Linked DNA regions of Homo sapiens: region 2 is linked to region 1. The links come from fine-mapping of genetic effects on gene expression. Tissue or cell type: cerebellar hemisphere. Region 1 holds a variant in brackets; the other region holds the start of a gene. All regions are shown on one strand. Distances are from middle to middle.

Region 1 (8,448 bases):
CTTCCTTTTTTGTTGGATAAAGAAAAAGACAGCTTTAGGTGTGGTGCTTGGTACCATAGTGGTGAGAGGGGATGGGCATGTAGGTGAAAGTGGCAATACCTCCACTGTATCTTGATGGGAGATATGAATAGCAGTTACAGAATTTGGAATATATTGGCATTGAGACAGATTATATTTTAGTGATCATGTTAATAATGGATTACTTTTTATGTCATGCCTGATTCATTATGAATATTTATACACATAATTGAGTTTTGTTAATTTTTACACTTGCTTATTTTTATCATTCAGATCAAATCATGCCTCCTAACACATTTAATGGTGGGGAAAAAAAGAAAAGAAACTTTTTATCTGAGGAATGTGAGCCCGTCAGATAAAACATTAAGAGGCACAGAAAGGCACTGGAATGAAATGGCAGTCATGTCACTCCCCATTAAGCTGCATCATTACCTTTTTTTTCTTTTTTTTTTTTTGAGATGGGGTATCACTTTGTCGCCCAGACTGGAGTGCAGTGGCATGATCAGTTTCAGCTCACTGCAACCTCCACCTCCCAAGCTCAAGCAATTCTCCTGCCTCAGCCTCCCAAGTAGTTGGGATTATAGATGTGTGCCACTACCGCCTGGCTAATTTTTGTATTTTTAGTAGAGACGGGGTTTCACCATGTTGGCCAGGCTGGTCTCAAACTCCTGACCCCAAATGATCCACCCGCCTCGGCCTCCCAAAGTGGTGGGATTACAGGTGTGAGCCACTGGTCCCTTGAAGCCACTTATTATGAGGGCTGCAGACTAGCTGAAGCTAAGAAACCATAAAGTCCATATGCTGGACACTCTAACTTGTACCCACCCTATAGTTCAACAGTGTACAGCCAATCAGTGATCAACATTATCTCTGTATGCCAGTGAGAATTCTTGGTGAAACTTTGTATCATTGTATCAGCCCACTTTTTGTTCCCTTTGCCTTTACAAACCTGCTTGCAACAAAGGCCGAGGGAGTGCTCCCCAAAGGAACTCCCCAAGGTATCTTAGAAGCATCCTGGGCCACTGTCCTTGATTTGACTCATGTAAACTATATTTTGTGCCACAGCCTCTTCCTTTTACATCGACATAATGTAGAAAAAAATATAAATTGAAAGAGCCTATAAGTTGTTGAGTGTTTTACCCCTAGGACTTCTGTTAAGGTTTGTTAATGTATTATTTCTAGGAAAGATATGGATGAAGTTGAAGAGAAATCTAAAGATGTTATAAACTTTACTGCCGAGAAACTTTCAGTAGATGAAGTCTCACAGTTGGTGATTTCTCCGCTCTGTGGTGCAATATCCCTATTTGTAGGTGAGTTGTAATTTTCATTGCATCTATCACTGTATAAGACAATAGAAATTAGCATGTGCTTTCCATGTTCAGTGTTAACGGAGGAGTTTGAAATACTGAACTTTAAACCAAGATTACCGATGATGGTGGGTAGACTTTTTTTTAGTTCTTGTTTTGTTTTAGTAACCTTCAAATTAACCTATATTAAATTACAAGGCATTTTGAAAAGTAGGATAAAAGTCATTGTTAGGAGAGAGAATTCTAGATTTTCCAAAATTGAAGGTAAAAATGTACTTGATAGTCCTGGGAACATAAATATTTTCCTTTTAAGTATCTATTAGTCAGAAGAGGAATATTGCCCGGTTTGCCAGGTGAGTGTTTTTAGTAAGCTTGCTTAATCAGTGCTCATCTTTGTGAAGATCTGTTTTATTTTCCTAATCAAATTTTGTTTTTAGAAGATTTCAAAGTAGTTTTAGAAGAATTGGTATGCTGCTTGTTTACTATTAATTTACTATTAAAAATATTCCTTTTTTATTAACGTGCTATTTCTTTTGTAGGGAAAAACCTTATTTTAATTGTTTTCTTTTTCTTTTTTTTCATTTTTAAAGGGACTACAAGAAATAACTTTGAAGGGAAAAAAGTCATTAGCTTAGAATATGAAGCATATCTACCCATGGCGGAAAATGAAGTCAGAAAGATTTGTAGTGACATTAGGCAGAAATGGCCAGTCAAACACATAGCAGTGTTCCATAGACTTGGGTATGATTTCCTTTATCACTCTAAAAGTTAAGTGTAATTGTTTTCCATCTTTGTACTAACTCTGATTCTTGAATCTTTCTTAGTAATTCTATATTACCATGAGAGGAATATTCATGTATTATTTTTGGAGGACAATAGGGATGGCTGTTAGTACCTTTAGGGACTGCCTAGTGAGTTTTGATATTGGGAGAGCTCTTGTTGCCTCTGTTGCTGTAACAAACTGCAGTTGTGCCAAGACTTGCAGGCCCTATGACAATCTGTGACAGATTCTTTTTGATATAAATGCCTCGAAAGTCATTAGAGTGGTTTGCCTTTTTGTACCCCTAAAAAGAGAAGAGTTCTTGGCTTTAAAAAGAAGCCAGTAATTGAGACTGTATCTATCATACTCTGTTAGTTACTAGTTTGTTATTAATAACCAGTAGTTTTATTAATGGTTATTATCACTCCTATTACTTGATATGTATTATTTTAAATTTTGTATTATACTCGTTAGGACATAACTTTGTATTTCTAGGCATTACTTGGCACTGTGCCTTGTTGAGTCAGATGTTTGCTCTATCAATGAAAGGATTTTCCTTGGTGCCCATCAGGAGGGTTTAGTGGATAGATTCTAACAAATTAGCTGTAGCATCAGCCTCATCTACTGCCTCTGCTGAATGCTACTGCAATTAATTACTCTTTTCTAACTGTATGTTTACGTAAAATAGAACTACAGTATAATTCTAAGACTGCATACCTGGATTTTTTTTCATCTGTCTAGCAGATTCTTTAACACGTAGATTCAGAGATGATGGTGATTTTTTTTTCTCTTCATCTTGTTAAAGCTTGGTTCCAGTGTCAGAAGCAAGCATAATCATTGCTGTGTCCTCAGCCCACAGAGCTGCATCTCTTGAAGCTGTGAGCTATGCCATTGATACTTTAAAAGCCAAGGTGCCCATATGGAAAAAGGTAAGTTAAGAAAATAACACATTTTAGCATGTGGACCTGATTTTTCTCAGGAATTTTTAGATAAATCCCCCCATATTTATGGACTTTTTACTGACTGTAGTATCTTGTTTTCTTTATCTGTGAAATATCTTCTTTCCAAGATTTGTTAAGCATGAAAAATATGTGCCCCAAAGAATGCATGGCACACAGTAAGCCTCAATGAGTGATAACAGTGAGAATTCCTAGTCTGGACTGTTGGAGGGGTTCATACATGAAGTTATTTTCCTTGGATTATAATTCCCTTGAATTAGAGGGTCTTTCTGTTGGAGAGTGAGAATAATGCATTAGCTATTTAGGTAATGGCTAAAATAGAAATTCTTTAAAGTGAAAGAGGCTTTTCCTAGAGGTCCTTTTTAGGGAAGAAAAAAAAATGGTGAGATATTGCTCCCTCTGAGAAAATGCAGTGAGTGGATTTAAAAACAGAAATAGGAACTTCTGGCATGTTTTCTGTCAATAAGGGCAAGTAATTCTCTGGTTAAATAGAGCATTCTGATGGGATGAAAAGGCCCAACTCCCTAGTTTCTCCCCTGGTGTAGTAACATTAACAGTGGGATTGTTCTGTGGTTGCACATTCAATGTCTAGAATTGTCTAGAATTGCCTACAGCGTTGTGGTTGACAGAAAGCTGAGGAGTTAATGAACAGCTCAGTAGATGAAAAGACCAGAGCAGAGAGCCAGGGCTTTTAAAGGGCACTTCTCCCCTCCTTCCCAGGGGACCTGCCTCAGTCAGTGGTAGAAATAAGCAAGTTGGACTCATAACCAGGGCCTGGGAAATTTGATGACCATGTTTTCAGAATAAAATTGAAGCCCATTGTTAGAATACGTAGGGATTAGAGGATAGAATATGTGTGAAAGGAAACTTAGTGAAGCTCAGATATATTGTTCCCTTGCTGTGAACAAGGCTGACACAACAGGAGGCAGGCCCCCAGAGAGCGAGAGGTAGGAAGAGCATTCTAAGATCAGCTGCAAGCCTGGAAGGCAGGGGTAGCTTTCTTCACCAGGGAGGAAAGGGTGCACAGTCAGTGGACAGAAAGTAGATGGGAGCAACCCCAGAAATACAGGTAATGAGCAGGAGTTGGGGCATATTCTTGTTTTCATGCTTTGAGGACTAGTTGGGCTTCGTATTTTGCTTTTGTTTGTCCATAGAGAGTCCGAGGAAGTGCAGGAGTTCAGAGGACAGTTGAATTTGAATTCCTCTCCCTACAGAAATGGAATGTGACTAGAGAGTGAGAAGAGAAAGTGATATGTTCTCCTTACCCCTCCTTTCCACAAACTATGTAACTTCTAGTCTGGTTCTAGTCTCGGCCTGTGCTTTGAGATCATCTGTGATATAGGGAAGGGTGGCAGGTAGGTAGAGTGCATATGTCAAAGAACAGCTCATACCAGAGGGCAGCTCAAACTTGTTTAGGAACTTCTGAGAGGTGACCACTTAATTCAACAGCTAATGAAGATATCTGCCTTTGGAAAAGCATATTTAGAAATGTTGAAGTAGTAGGTATGTTTGGAAAGAAAAAAAAATGTTTAAAACTAAAGACTTTCTGTCTTCCCCTATGTAACCTTGCCCATGATGTCTCTCGTCATGATTGTTAAAAGAGGAGCCATTGAAATAGATGTGATATTCATTTGTCTGATTTATTCAAATATATTTTATATTCGTATAGTAGAATGGTCTATTTTTAATACCTGTTATGATTTTGTTTTTTAGGAAATATACGAAGAGTCATCAACTTGGAAAGGAAACAAAGAGTGCTTTTGGGCATCCAACAGTTAATCACTTATGTTTTTAGAGCATGCAATCTTAACTTTGTTAAACTATTATTATTGATCACATTTTGATTTTTTTCTCTCCACATCAGGATAGTTTACTGAAGCACAATCTCTTATACTAGTGGGACAAAAGGGAGAAAAAGGAAGCAAGATAAATGGGTATGTAGGATGAAGGGTTATTTAAAATGGAACTAAAGATAGAAGGAGGACTGTAGGAAGAAATGGAATAATTTAAATGTGAGGAAAGATATCTGTGGTAGACATGTCCTTCCATGACTAATTTCTAATTGTAACTCAACACACATTGAGGTATGGGCCCTCCTCAGTGACTTTAACTAGCTCAGAAACGTACTCCCCCACCAACCCCACCTCACCGCCCCCCATCCCGGTTCTGGGAGAGCATTGTTATTAAGGAT[GC/C]ATGACAGGAATGTTGGCAGAACTGGAAAGTATTAAAAAAGCATTATCAGACAGTCTTGATATTATACATTTTCAGAAATATATTAAAAATAATAAACTAAAACCCATGATTTCAAAAGTTTAAAAAGAGTATTTTCTTTTTTTTTAAATTGCCTAAAATAGTTCTCATTATGGAGATTTCTGGGATTTCAGAATCTATAATCTTACCAGAAAACTTTTTGTTGTTTTTTATTAGTTGTTAATTTTGTATCAATATACAAATCAGCACAAAATTGTCATAAAGCTAACTAGCAACAAGGTGGTTTGTGTTGAAATGTTTAGGTAAACAATGCCCCAATTTTTAACTGGTTAAGCTTTATAGTATTTTGATAGACTTGTACATATAAGTCCCATATAGTTCTTAAATTTTTTTTTCCAGCTTTATTTAGGTATACTTGACAAAAATTGTATGTATTTAAAGTATACAATGTGATTTTTGATACACATATACATTGTGAGGTGATTACCATAATCCAACTAATTAACATATTCCTCAGCTCACATAGTCCCCTCTTCTGTGTGGTGAGAATATTTAAGGTCTACTCTCAGCAAATTTCAGGTAAACACATAGCTCATAAAATAATAAAATACAGGCAAAATTTGGGCAGTCGGCATCATCACAAAATTTGCATTATGCATATTAAGAACAAAAGCTATACTTTCAGACACTTAGATTGAAGGATTTTTTTCTTATGTCTGGGACAAATAAGAAACGTAGTAATCCTATTTGTTATATGTAGTGAAAACATCTTTTACCTAAGGAACCCATTTATTCAACAAATATTTATTGAATGCCTGTTTTGTGCCAGGCACCCACCCAGTGATCTTTTTCTGCCAACCTAAAATACCTTGAGGAACACTCTGCATCTTATCTGTGGCTGGGACCCATAGGACAGCCACACTGACTTTAGGAATCACCTGGTTACATCAGTTGATGCTTGTTCATTAGTCCGTCTGGAGAGATTGGGCCAGAAGGATACTGGAAGGGCAGACAAACCCTCCGCCTACTTCCTCTGCCGGGTTCGGGTTGCCTGTTTGGTCTCAGCCTTACCTTCACAGTTCAGTGTCACTCTGGCTTGCCATCGAGCTTCCGCCTGTCCCCATTGGAGAGAAGGGGTGGGTGTTGGCTGTTGCATTATATCTAAAAGCACATTATCATGGGGTTACTGGGTCACTGGACATTTCTAGGATTTTGGACATAGGTTGTTAAATGGATGTTATGTCATATGCAATGTTGATAGGTATATGTGGATTTCAAGACTTTCCTACTTAGATATTTCTTTAGAAGTTCCTTATTGAGGGTAATGATGTTTTTAAAGAACATAGAACATTCTTTATGTTTTAAAAGAATCATGCCTTCATTAAGTAGGCTTTATTCTAAGTTTGGAACTGAGACTGTTATGCTTTTAAAGTCTCCAACAGAGAGGTTAAGGAGTTAACCTGGGGCATGCCAGAACTGGGATGGAATGGCCTTGAAAGATTTTAGTGCATTGCACTTGACTTAGATAGGATCTTTACTGACCCTTGCTTACTTAGGAGTGGCAGAGTTAATTGGTGGTTCAGATATTAAGGGGCTACTGTCACTCTGATATGTAGCTTTTCTATCATCTCTGTAACTTAGCTTCAAGTAACTAGAAGAGTAATCTAAAAAAAATAATTAGCCTTTAATCAGATTGCCTGCAGTGTTTCTTGGTCACTTTAAAGCCGTGACTTTGCATGATTGCTAGGTAAGTTCACTTAAGAAATAGGAAATTCAAATTATTTATGTTTCAAGTATTTTTGAACAGGTGGTAAAATGAAATTGATTTTTATCATCTTTGAATGAAAGTAACAGCAGATATTCAATGAGTGACTTATTTTGTGGACATTTTTGTCCTTTGGATATGATGTATAGAGTCACAATATATTTTCAGCCTTTTTTGAGAAATAAGTGATTTAGACATCTTACACAGTTACTGAGCACCTGGTACAGTGAAGATCTCTCAAGAATGATTTGTGTGATGTAGTTCGGTGGATCATCCAGCAGAGGGCAGTAGAGCCAGAGCCATAGTAAAAGTTATAGTAAAGTTGCTCTTAGCAACTTGAGTCTTACTTAGATTTAATTTTGCATAGAACCAAAAGTTCAGTTTAGTAGCCATTTTCTTTAAAGTCAGGCTGTAGTGGTTCCGAAATGAAAATTAGGCCCTGATTTTATGTAAGATGATGTCCAATCTTTAATTGACACCTTAAAAATATTAAAAGATTATGATAGGATCAGGAAGGAGTTTTTGAAAATGCAATTTGTAGTTTTTAACAAGTGATGTAGAATAAATAAAAAGAAGTACTTTTTAAAAAGTAAGTATAAAATTATTTTCCAGTTAACTATGGGATATAAATGATTGCTTTAATACAGGTCTTCCTAACCTGTACAGCATTTCCTAACCTGCTCTGTGAAAAACAAAGAAATAAAACTTAGTGCTCTCTTTCTCTAACATTTTATTTTTTAAGAGCTGGGAGGGGGGGGGTCTCATGTTGCCGGCCTTGAACTCCTGGGTTCAAAGGATCCTCCCTGCCTCAGCCTCCCAAGTAGCTGCAATTCCCACATTCAGCTCTCCAAGATTGTATTTTAATGTGAGATATATAGCAGACACACTTATTGATGGTTGTGCTGCAGTGAGCTGCCCTCCTGAGACGGCTCAGCACAACTGCGATGGGCAGGGAGGCATGTGAGAGAGCGCCGCAGACATGAATGGAGATGCTGGTGCATCGCTATTTATGGCAGCACACACACACTTTCCACCCTGTCTTTGCATTACTCTGCCATCTGTACAGCGATGGCAGTCTGTGAGCCCAACGTGTACTTACTTTATAACTTACAGCATATTTATTTCAGCATATTTACTCTTTAAAAATATTTAAACCTTCCTGCTTATTATGATTTTTTTTAAACTGTGCAGATGACTCTGCTTTTGCATGTTGCAGCAGTTTGGCTGATTTTTTTTCCCTCTCTATTCCAAGCACACATTTTATTTCAAAAGGTAAGCTTTAGAGCAGTGCTTCTCAACTTCAATGCAATATGAATCACCTGGGGATGCTGTAGAACTTACAATTTGACTTGAATAGTTTTGAGTGGCCCCTGAGATCTGTGTTTTTTAACAGGCTCCAGGTGATGCAGCACCATCTGTCCCTGGGCC
Region 2 (8,245 bases), 110 kb after region 1:
AAACCAGACCATACATCAGAAATATATGAGCCATTGTAAATACTGAATCCTAAACCCCAGTCCATAAATTTAAGTCAAACAGTGGCTCAGGACCTAGTATTAAGAGAGCAAAGCTTAGCTGAGGTTGGGCAGGTATAACTGCTAAGCCATAGGGGAGCAAAGTTACTTTATCAGAGGGCGGCCTAAGTCCCATTAAGGGGCTGAGGATGAGACCAGAGAGGTGGTTTAGGGTGGGACCCAGCAAAGGTAGGTTACCTCAAGCTTTCCTTTTTGTTGCAAAAGTAAAAGTTCTCTACTTTATAATTTTGCTTGGGATTGACCCTTCTAGCATTGGATAATGGTCAGTTGCAAAGAGATGAGTGAAAAGGGGTGAAAGCAACAATGCAATGAAGGCAAAGGGAGTATTTGGAAAATATTTTCACACTAAATATGGTATGATCAGGTGTAGTCATAACAAAGAATGGTGTATATAGATGGCTTTAGAGTGTGTACATGTGTGGGCATGTGTGTGGTGTGTGTGTGTGAATGTGTATTTGTGTTCAGGAAAGCATACAGTAAAGAAAAGATTGGATAGGTAGAATGTACCTTTTTATGACATGCCAAGAAATTGGCACTTTACCCTACCTGAGATGGGGAGCCACTAACATTTGAAACAAAGCAGTAATTGGAAACATATAAGTGTCTTAGAAAGATATCATTAGTGAAAATGAAGAGAATGGGTTGGAGAGATAAGAAAAGAAAATCCAGTTTAAAAGTTACATACAGACATAAGATGAGGGACTGACTGGGTGGCAGGAGTTGCATGGATGGGAGGAGAGCCAAGAGAATTTGGAGAGTGGCTGTGAGGTTGAAAACATGGGGACAAATTCCTGGCTTTCATGTTTGTGTGATAATAATACTGCCATTAAACAATGGTAGCCAATAGAGGAGAAAATTCTGGAGGACACGTATTAAATTCAGTTTTGGAAATGTTGAATCTGGCTTACTTACAGACTGTCTAGCTGGAGAAATTTGGTGGCTGATGGAAATACTGATCTGGAACTCAGAAGGGGAGGCTGGCTGGAGATAGGGACCTGTGCAGGGAATGGGCCCAGAGACAATCTGCAGAATGAAGAGGAGGATTCAGGATGAAACTCTGCAAACACCAACAAGGAAAGAGCCTGTGAAGGAGATGACGGGAGAGCAGCGAGGAAAGGAGGAGAAAAACAGGAAGAGAACAGAAGCCAGAAGTACAGGATGTTTCAGGAGGAAATTAAATATCAAAAGAAATATTTTTTTTACAATAAGAAAAATTAGAATATTTACAGACTGAGGGGAAGTTACATTAGGGAGAGAATTTGAAGACGTGCACTGAAGAGGGATGAGTGCTGGGGCAGGGTTTCAGGGATAGTAAGAAAAGATGTGGTCTAGAACCTGGGTGGAAGGACTATCCTTGACCTGTGAACATACTGGAGAAAATACGTGATGGCCTTCATTTCAAAATTACATTTGCCTTCTGCTAATGGCCTATATTTAGTTTATAGATTATCTAGGCCTCTTATGTTCTCTCTTTTTCATCCTCAGACTGCCCATTTACCATTTTCATGGTATTAAGCACTTAGAAATGAGCACTGAAAGGTGATAAATATAGGACTAAACTATGAGTACATTTTCTTCTTAAGCACCTGTGAAAAGGTTTCTGGAAAGCAAATTTGAATGTAAGTGTTAAAATAAGATTTGAAGGTGATATGTTTTTAAAGTGGTTTGCATGTATGCTAGAGATGATACAAGATGTCTAAACACACATGTGTTTTATACATATTAACAGGTATATATATGTATATACAATTGTATATACATAACACGGCATATTGTATACTCAAGGAACAGGTTTTCTCTTAATTTAAGATCATCATAATGAAGCTCTGTCACATACATAGCTTTTAAATTTGAATTTTTGTATGTGATATGATGCAATTGTACATACTATAATTTTATAACAGTTATGTGTGTGTGTGTGTGTAATGATAGTGAATGAGAAATTTTATACAGATAGGGTAATGCCATACAAAATTTTAGATACTACTGAGCTAGAGATTTCACTTATTCATGTTAACCTGGGATACTCATGGTACCAAAAAACGATGCTGCTTCTCCAGGAACCTCAAGTGATATCACAAATGAGAGAGCTTTCTTATGAGGATCTTAAATTAAGAGAAAACCTGTTCCTTGAGTATACAAATGGCTGGAGTAGGAGGAGGGAATAAATGCACAAAACTTTTGCAGATGTTATTTTCGATCATCTCTGCTTGCTTGCCCTGAGGTGTCCTTATTAACTCCAGGTTAAGTCTCTGTTCCTGACTTCATGCCTTGCAGCGTTACATTCCATTAAAGAATTTCTCACTGCTCTTTACATAACAAGCCTCAACATTTCAAAGATAAGAAAATGATGTTATGTTTCCACAGCTTATTTTAATACTGGGTAATTACAGAGAGATGAAAAGCTTGGGTTTATATTTCTATTAGCTCTAGTTGTATTCCAGAGACTCATTTTCAATGTCAAGTACAACTTTACCTGAAATCCGTAGATTAGGGTTGGTGGCCCCTCAAAACAACTCATCTGGTTCCCGGAGAAAGTATCTGAAGCACCCAATACAGGTGAGACAGAAAACCTAAGATGCCCATTCTCTGCTCGGGCTGGGGACAGTGGTGCTATTTCTCTCTTATCTCTGACCTGGAGAAAATGCCACCAGGTTGACGTGGACTAGGATTCATTCCTCCACAATAAAGAATAGCAAGTGGCTGAATGTCAGTCTCAAAGGAGGACAGCTTAGGAAATATTTATCTTCTTTGTAAAAAAAAAAAAAAAAAACCACACACACACTTTAAAATCAGAGACAACTTTTTTGTTTTGTTTTGATCGCTGTTCAAACTACATTATACAAACGTGTCTCCTTCTCCCTCCAAATAAACTAAAATTCTTAAATTTGACCACACTCTAGCTCTGCCTAATGGTCAGGGAAAAAGTACTCAGGCGATGGTCCCACAAAAGCTCTCCACCCCAGCCTTATTTCCTCCTCTTAGTGTAAAAGAACTCAGGAGGTGGGCGGGCCCCACTGCCACAGCACTACAGTTAGAGCGGCTGCTCCGGCTTATTCTCTCATTGCGGCATCTAGGATCCAGAAGTGAAAAGAACTTTTCCTAGCCTAAGTTTACATTCGTCGAATAGACAATGTTACAACAATAAGAGGAAGGCAGAAGGGAAGGAAGAATTCCCCTCTGCCAAGTATTTAAGTGGCGCTTGGTTTATTCCAAGTCCCCCCGGGAAGAAACACAGCGCTTCGTCCTCAAGTAAGAAATAGAGGCATTATTCACATCCTTGGGTTGAAAAATAAGCATTTTGGGGCTCGCAGGCTTCTGCAAAGCCAGCAAGCACCGCGCTGGGGAGCTGCAGGCCGCCATCAGCAATGGATTCCGGATTTCCCTGGTCTCTGGCAGGCGCGGCACCTGTCTGAGCCAGGGGAAGTTGGGCTGCAGGACTCGCGGTCTCCAGGACACCCGCGGATCCCCACACTGTCCATGCTTGAGTGCGTGCGTGTCTGTCTGTGTGTGTGTGTGTGTGTGTGCGTGTGTGTACCTAAAACAAAGCACTCACTGAGATGACTTTGGAGGGTGCTTAACAGACAGGGCGAGACGCGCCTAATGGGGACGCAAGGCCTGGGATAGCAGGAAGGGAACGAAGAAGTATCTCTTTCCAAGCAGGTCCTGGTGGCTGGGAGCCCGAGTCCACGTGGAATCCGAGGGAACACACGGAGCTCGCTCCCTAGTTCCGCCCAATCCCTCCAGCGAGCCCCAGGAAGCCGCGCGGGTCCCTCCTGCAGCCGATGCAGAGCGAAATCCCCGCTTACCTTGACTGAGCGCTAACACCAGCAGCAGCGGCAGCGGCGCGGCCCCTGTCCGTTCTGGCCCCATCCTGGGTCTGACCGGGGGACCGTAGTTGCGCTGGGTTTGCAGAGGTTTGCAGAGGATACCCTTGGCCGAGGGATACGAGAACCTGCACACTCTAGAAGCTGTCCAGAGGGCTTCTCTCCCCCGCCCGGTGAGAGCAGGGAAAAGTTTCTGGGCAGCTCCTGCAGCGCCGAGGGCCCGCCCCAGCCCGCCCCTCCTGATTCCGCAAACACCGGATCTGCTCCGGCCGCGCCCCGCCCCACCCCGGCCCTGCGGCCCCGCGGGCTGCACCTCGGCTCGTCCACACGCGGGGCACCGCACCTTGGCTCCCGTACAGCGGCCCAGCCCCGGCAGCCTGGAGGCGGTGGGGATGGGGATGGCGCCCTGGCAGGCTTTCCTGCCCTGGACGGGACGGGTGGGCATATCCGACGGGCGAGCGCCCGCCCTGGCACCACTCCGCCCCCGCAGCCTGTCGCCAGCACGCAGGAGATGCCCCAGTCCCCGGGAGAACGTGGCCCCTCCGCAGCCCTTGGCAGCGCCCGGCTCCTGGCAGCGGGTGCCGAGGGCACTAGCCCTAAACCACAGTGCCTAGGGGCTGCGCGGTGCGTCCCTTTCTCTGTTTTTCCTAAGTGGGTGGAGAAAGGGACAAAAATAAGCGCAGAATGACCAGGTTAGAAACTAACTCATCAGGAAAGAAGATCTGCTCACAAGTTATGATTATCCAAGGTGATATTTAAGCAATACCTGCTGCAAGAGCTGTGTGTGTGTGTGTGTGTGTGACAGAGAGACAGAGAGAGAGAAATCATCATTACTTCCTCTCCTCCGAGATAATTAAGAGCTGATTTAATGACTGAGTTTAGGAGATTAACTTCAAGGCCAGAGAAAAGGCTGAGAGCCCATACATGCACTTGTGACTCTCCCTGTCTACATTACACCATGACATAGACTGTGACCATTTTCTTCCATTATTTCAGTCTCACATCTGGAAAGAGAACATTCTATATCCGAGATTTTTAGTTAAAAACCTAAGAAATAGGATATTAATTTTTCTTGTCTGAATCTTATGTTTTATCCAAAAGTTTGGCCACAAATTTCCAGCACATTGCTGAAACCAGAATTCTTCCAGTGACTACTTTTGTGAAGGAACGAACTGTTTTCATAAATCAAGCTTAAGGAGTTATGAGTCTAATAATCATCATTATTGTCATCATTCCAGATCTTCATGGAATGCTACTATGAGCTGAATGGGATGCCTGAGATACTGCCTCTAGGAAGCAAAGTGGCTCAAGGTGGGAAGGACTTAATAATTCATAAAAATCAAGCTCTTCTCTTTACTATAGATAGGGCTGATGTGTCACATTGTTAAAGTATTAAATTGGTATGCATCAGATGTTGCTGCTGATGGCTTATGACTAATACCCTTTGAACCCAAATTATATAGTCCCAGGCTCTTTCCTGTTTTCTTATCAGTCACTTACTGGCTGCACTTACTCACCTTGACAAACACCTGAAGGCATTTTTTTCTGAATTGTCTGGGGTACTCACCTGCTTACTAAAACTCCGGCTATCACCTGAGAGCTCTTAGGTGGCTGCTCACTAACCGGTGACACGATTTTGACGCTCCTTACAGACTTTTTGAAGGAAGTCAGCCAGGTTTCAGGGAGATGAATATCTGTCTGTTTCCTTCTGACTCACTGAAATGTGAGTAAGTGTTTGGAACAGACCTGTGTTTGGGAGGCAGGACACTTCCTTTAATGTGAGACAGGAATTTGTGTTTTATCTCTGGGGGTGGGGGGAAATAACATGCATCCTTCTTGGTTTTTGTTCTCAGAACTGGACAAATTAACATTACACTGTCATGAAGTGCAGAATAAGTCAGGAGCTACGATTTTCCAGAGCCAGGCAAAACTTTTAGAAACAAAGAACAAACTCCTGCCTCACATTAATTTTAAGAGGATAAAGTGTTCCTGAGACAAAGTAGTTTGAGAACCCCTTCCAGGGTGCTCTCCTGCCTAGTTGCAGTTGTGAGGGACACCACATTCAGAGCAGGAAATATGGAAGGTTAAGCTGGGGCTTCTCAAACTCTTTGGTCTCAAGAGCCCTTTACTCAGTAAGTCCTTTAACAAAAATCCTATTATGTGTGAACATAAATAATGTACATTTTATGAAAAATAACTATATTTCTCCAAATGAAAGAATCCGGGAGAAGAGTGGCATTGCTTTACATTTTTGCTAATATTTTAAATATCTGGCTTAAAAACAGACATTTGGATTCTCAGATCTGCTTCTGCATCCAATCTGTTACGGCATGTAGTTTTGGTGAAATTATATTGATTAATCTGGTGTTACACAGATATGGACTTAGAAAAACAGGAGATAATTCTGGATAATCCCCTGATACTACACCAAAACTCAACAAGTGGTAGTTTCTTAAAGTTGCAATGTGGAATCTGAAACCATATCAATGGTTTTTCCTATTCCGTGGCATTAAAATTCATTGATCTGCTGGCCTCTCCGTGTCCCTCTCCCTTTCTCTTCCTGTGAGTGCCCAGTGATGAAGAATACAATGACCACCAGTCCCCATCCTTGTTCTTGCACCATGAGGGCAAATGTCAACACAGTGAAAAACGCAGTAACGTCTCAGTATTGTTATGAAAATAGTTTTGACTTCACTGGCCACTTGAAAGGATCTTGAGAGACCCAGAGACCCTACTCCAAAAAGCACTCAGGGGTGAAGTGAGGCCTTCCCCTCTTTTTCTTTTCCTTAGCTCAAGACAGAGTTTTGTTGGGGAACACGGCTCAGATAAGTTTCCCCAGTGTTTCCTTCTGATCTGTTGTATCGTCATGCCCTGCCCTCCTTTGTTTATCCCGTTTTCATATAGACAATCACCCAAACCAGAAACCTCTGCTTTCTTCCCCAGGTGCACCACCAGCCCCCTGCTAACATCCCATTCCAATTCTGTCTTTACACCCTACTAGGGTTTTCTGTGCCATCTCCTATTTTCTGTTCCACTGCTAATCTCTCTTTGGTTCAAACCCTTTTGATCTTTCACCATGGTGACAAACTCCCATATAATCTCTCTGTGCTTCCTTCTCTCCTGTTCCAGTTCATCTTTTATACCTGTTGTCACAGTTATCCAAAAATGCAGGACTGATCTGCTGAAAATCATTAGATGTCTTCAGGACATTCAAAGTACCCTAGGGTTTAAGGTCACGATTTGGCTCCAACTCACCTCTGTGGGCTCCGTGGCTATCTTTCCCTCTTGCACACTATGTTTAGGCCAAATTCACGAGTTCACTGGCCTGCCTTTCCCATTCTTCATTGTCAATTCCTTATTTTTCTACTTAGAATAGCTTTCTTTTTTTCTTCCATTGTTTCAAATTCTACTTCAAGGCTCCAGTCAAATTCTATATTATTAGCCCAGCCTTTCCCATTTTCTTCACTGAGAACTAATCATTCTTCTTTCTTGGCTCTGGTTTCCTCTAGCTTTTTTTTTTTGTTTTTGTTTTTTCCCCCAAATAAACTTTCTTTTGTATGTATTACAGAGTAATATATTATTGAGTTATATGTGTATATTCTACCTTCTCATTTAAATGCTGGGTCTCTGAAATCTTATACATTTTTGTTATAAGAGTCTAGTCCTATACCTAGTAAATAAATTTCTAATAAATATTAATAGTTATTATAATACATTGAAATGAGTTTCCTAACAATTCCACATTCTTCTCCCTAGACCTGAAAAGGGTGGTAAATATGAACTTCTAGGTAAGTCCTAGTAATTTTGAAGTGAAGTAACCAGTGGCTTCTCAAATGTTACTCAGTGAATCCATGGGATGAGTGAGTAAAGCTTAGAATCCATTGAGCTTGACTCACACACAAGTCTCTAAGCACTGGCTGGGGTGCATAATGGCCAAAATAAAAGAGACACTCCTAACTTAAACACAAACAAAACAAATAAAATAATTCTAGATTTCCTAGCTTCCTGGACCCATCAATACACTGATGAATCATATTCATATTTCGATTCTAGCACAACTACGGTTGACTGGCCTTACTTGTTTTCATGCTTGTGGCAGACATGCAAAGCTATTTGCCAGCTCTGCCAATAGGGCTTTCTCAGAGTCTTCCATGATCCCCTTCTAGAAGTCACTGAGTCACATAATCCTGCCTCCTTGTCGCTAAGCCAAACACCTGACCAAGCTCGATCAATCTCCTAGGGATTTACATTCATGGTATACAGATTCTAGAATCTTTGCTGATCACATGAAATGGAAATTTGTGTTCACTTTGTACAACCATTTTCTTTCTTTTTTCCCC

Which allele goes with the higher level. Alleles are on the strand shown, and positions count from the first base shown. SD is a standard deviation of normalised expression in the study named.
For the expression in cerebellar hemisphere of the gene that starts at base 4,068 in region 2, C is the high allele of the variant in region 1 and GC is the other (large effect, 0.77 SD a copy in GTEx).

What was found. PIP is the estimated chance that this variant, and not a neighbour inherited with it, causes the effect.
Region 2: it holds the start of ITGA2, and the variant in region 1 is fine-mapped to the expression of ITGA2 in cerebellar hemisphere (GTEx, PIP above 0.99). The same link has a PIP of 0.9 or more in cerebellum.

The regions. Positions count from the first base shown.
Region 1 is chr5:53,094,977-53,103,424 of GRCh38, reverse strand. It overlaps MOCS2 (molybdenum cofactor synthesis 2), which reads left to right. Exons shown (of 7, transcript NM_004531.5): 4 at 1,201-1,328; 5 at 1,916-2,066; 6 at 2,891-3,014; 7 at 4,758-7,746. The coding sequence ends at 4,823. Among named protein-coding and RNA genes, the nearest start is that of MOCS2, 11 kb to the left of the region's middle. The variant GC/C (reference allele first, on the strand shown) is at 5,236.
Region 2 is chr5:52,985,175-52,993,419 of GRCh38, reverse strand. ITGA2 (integrin subunit alpha 2) reads right to left here and starts at 4,068. Exons shown (of 30, transcript NM_002203.4): 1 at 3,888-4,068. The coding sequence starts at 3,951. ITGA2-AS1 (ITGA2 antisense RNA 1) reads left to right here and starts at 3,134. Exons shown (of 4, transcript NR_186583.1): 1 at 3,134-3,330; 2 at 5,144-5,216. RefSeq lists a silencer at 4,115-4,264 and an enhancer at 4,729-5,928.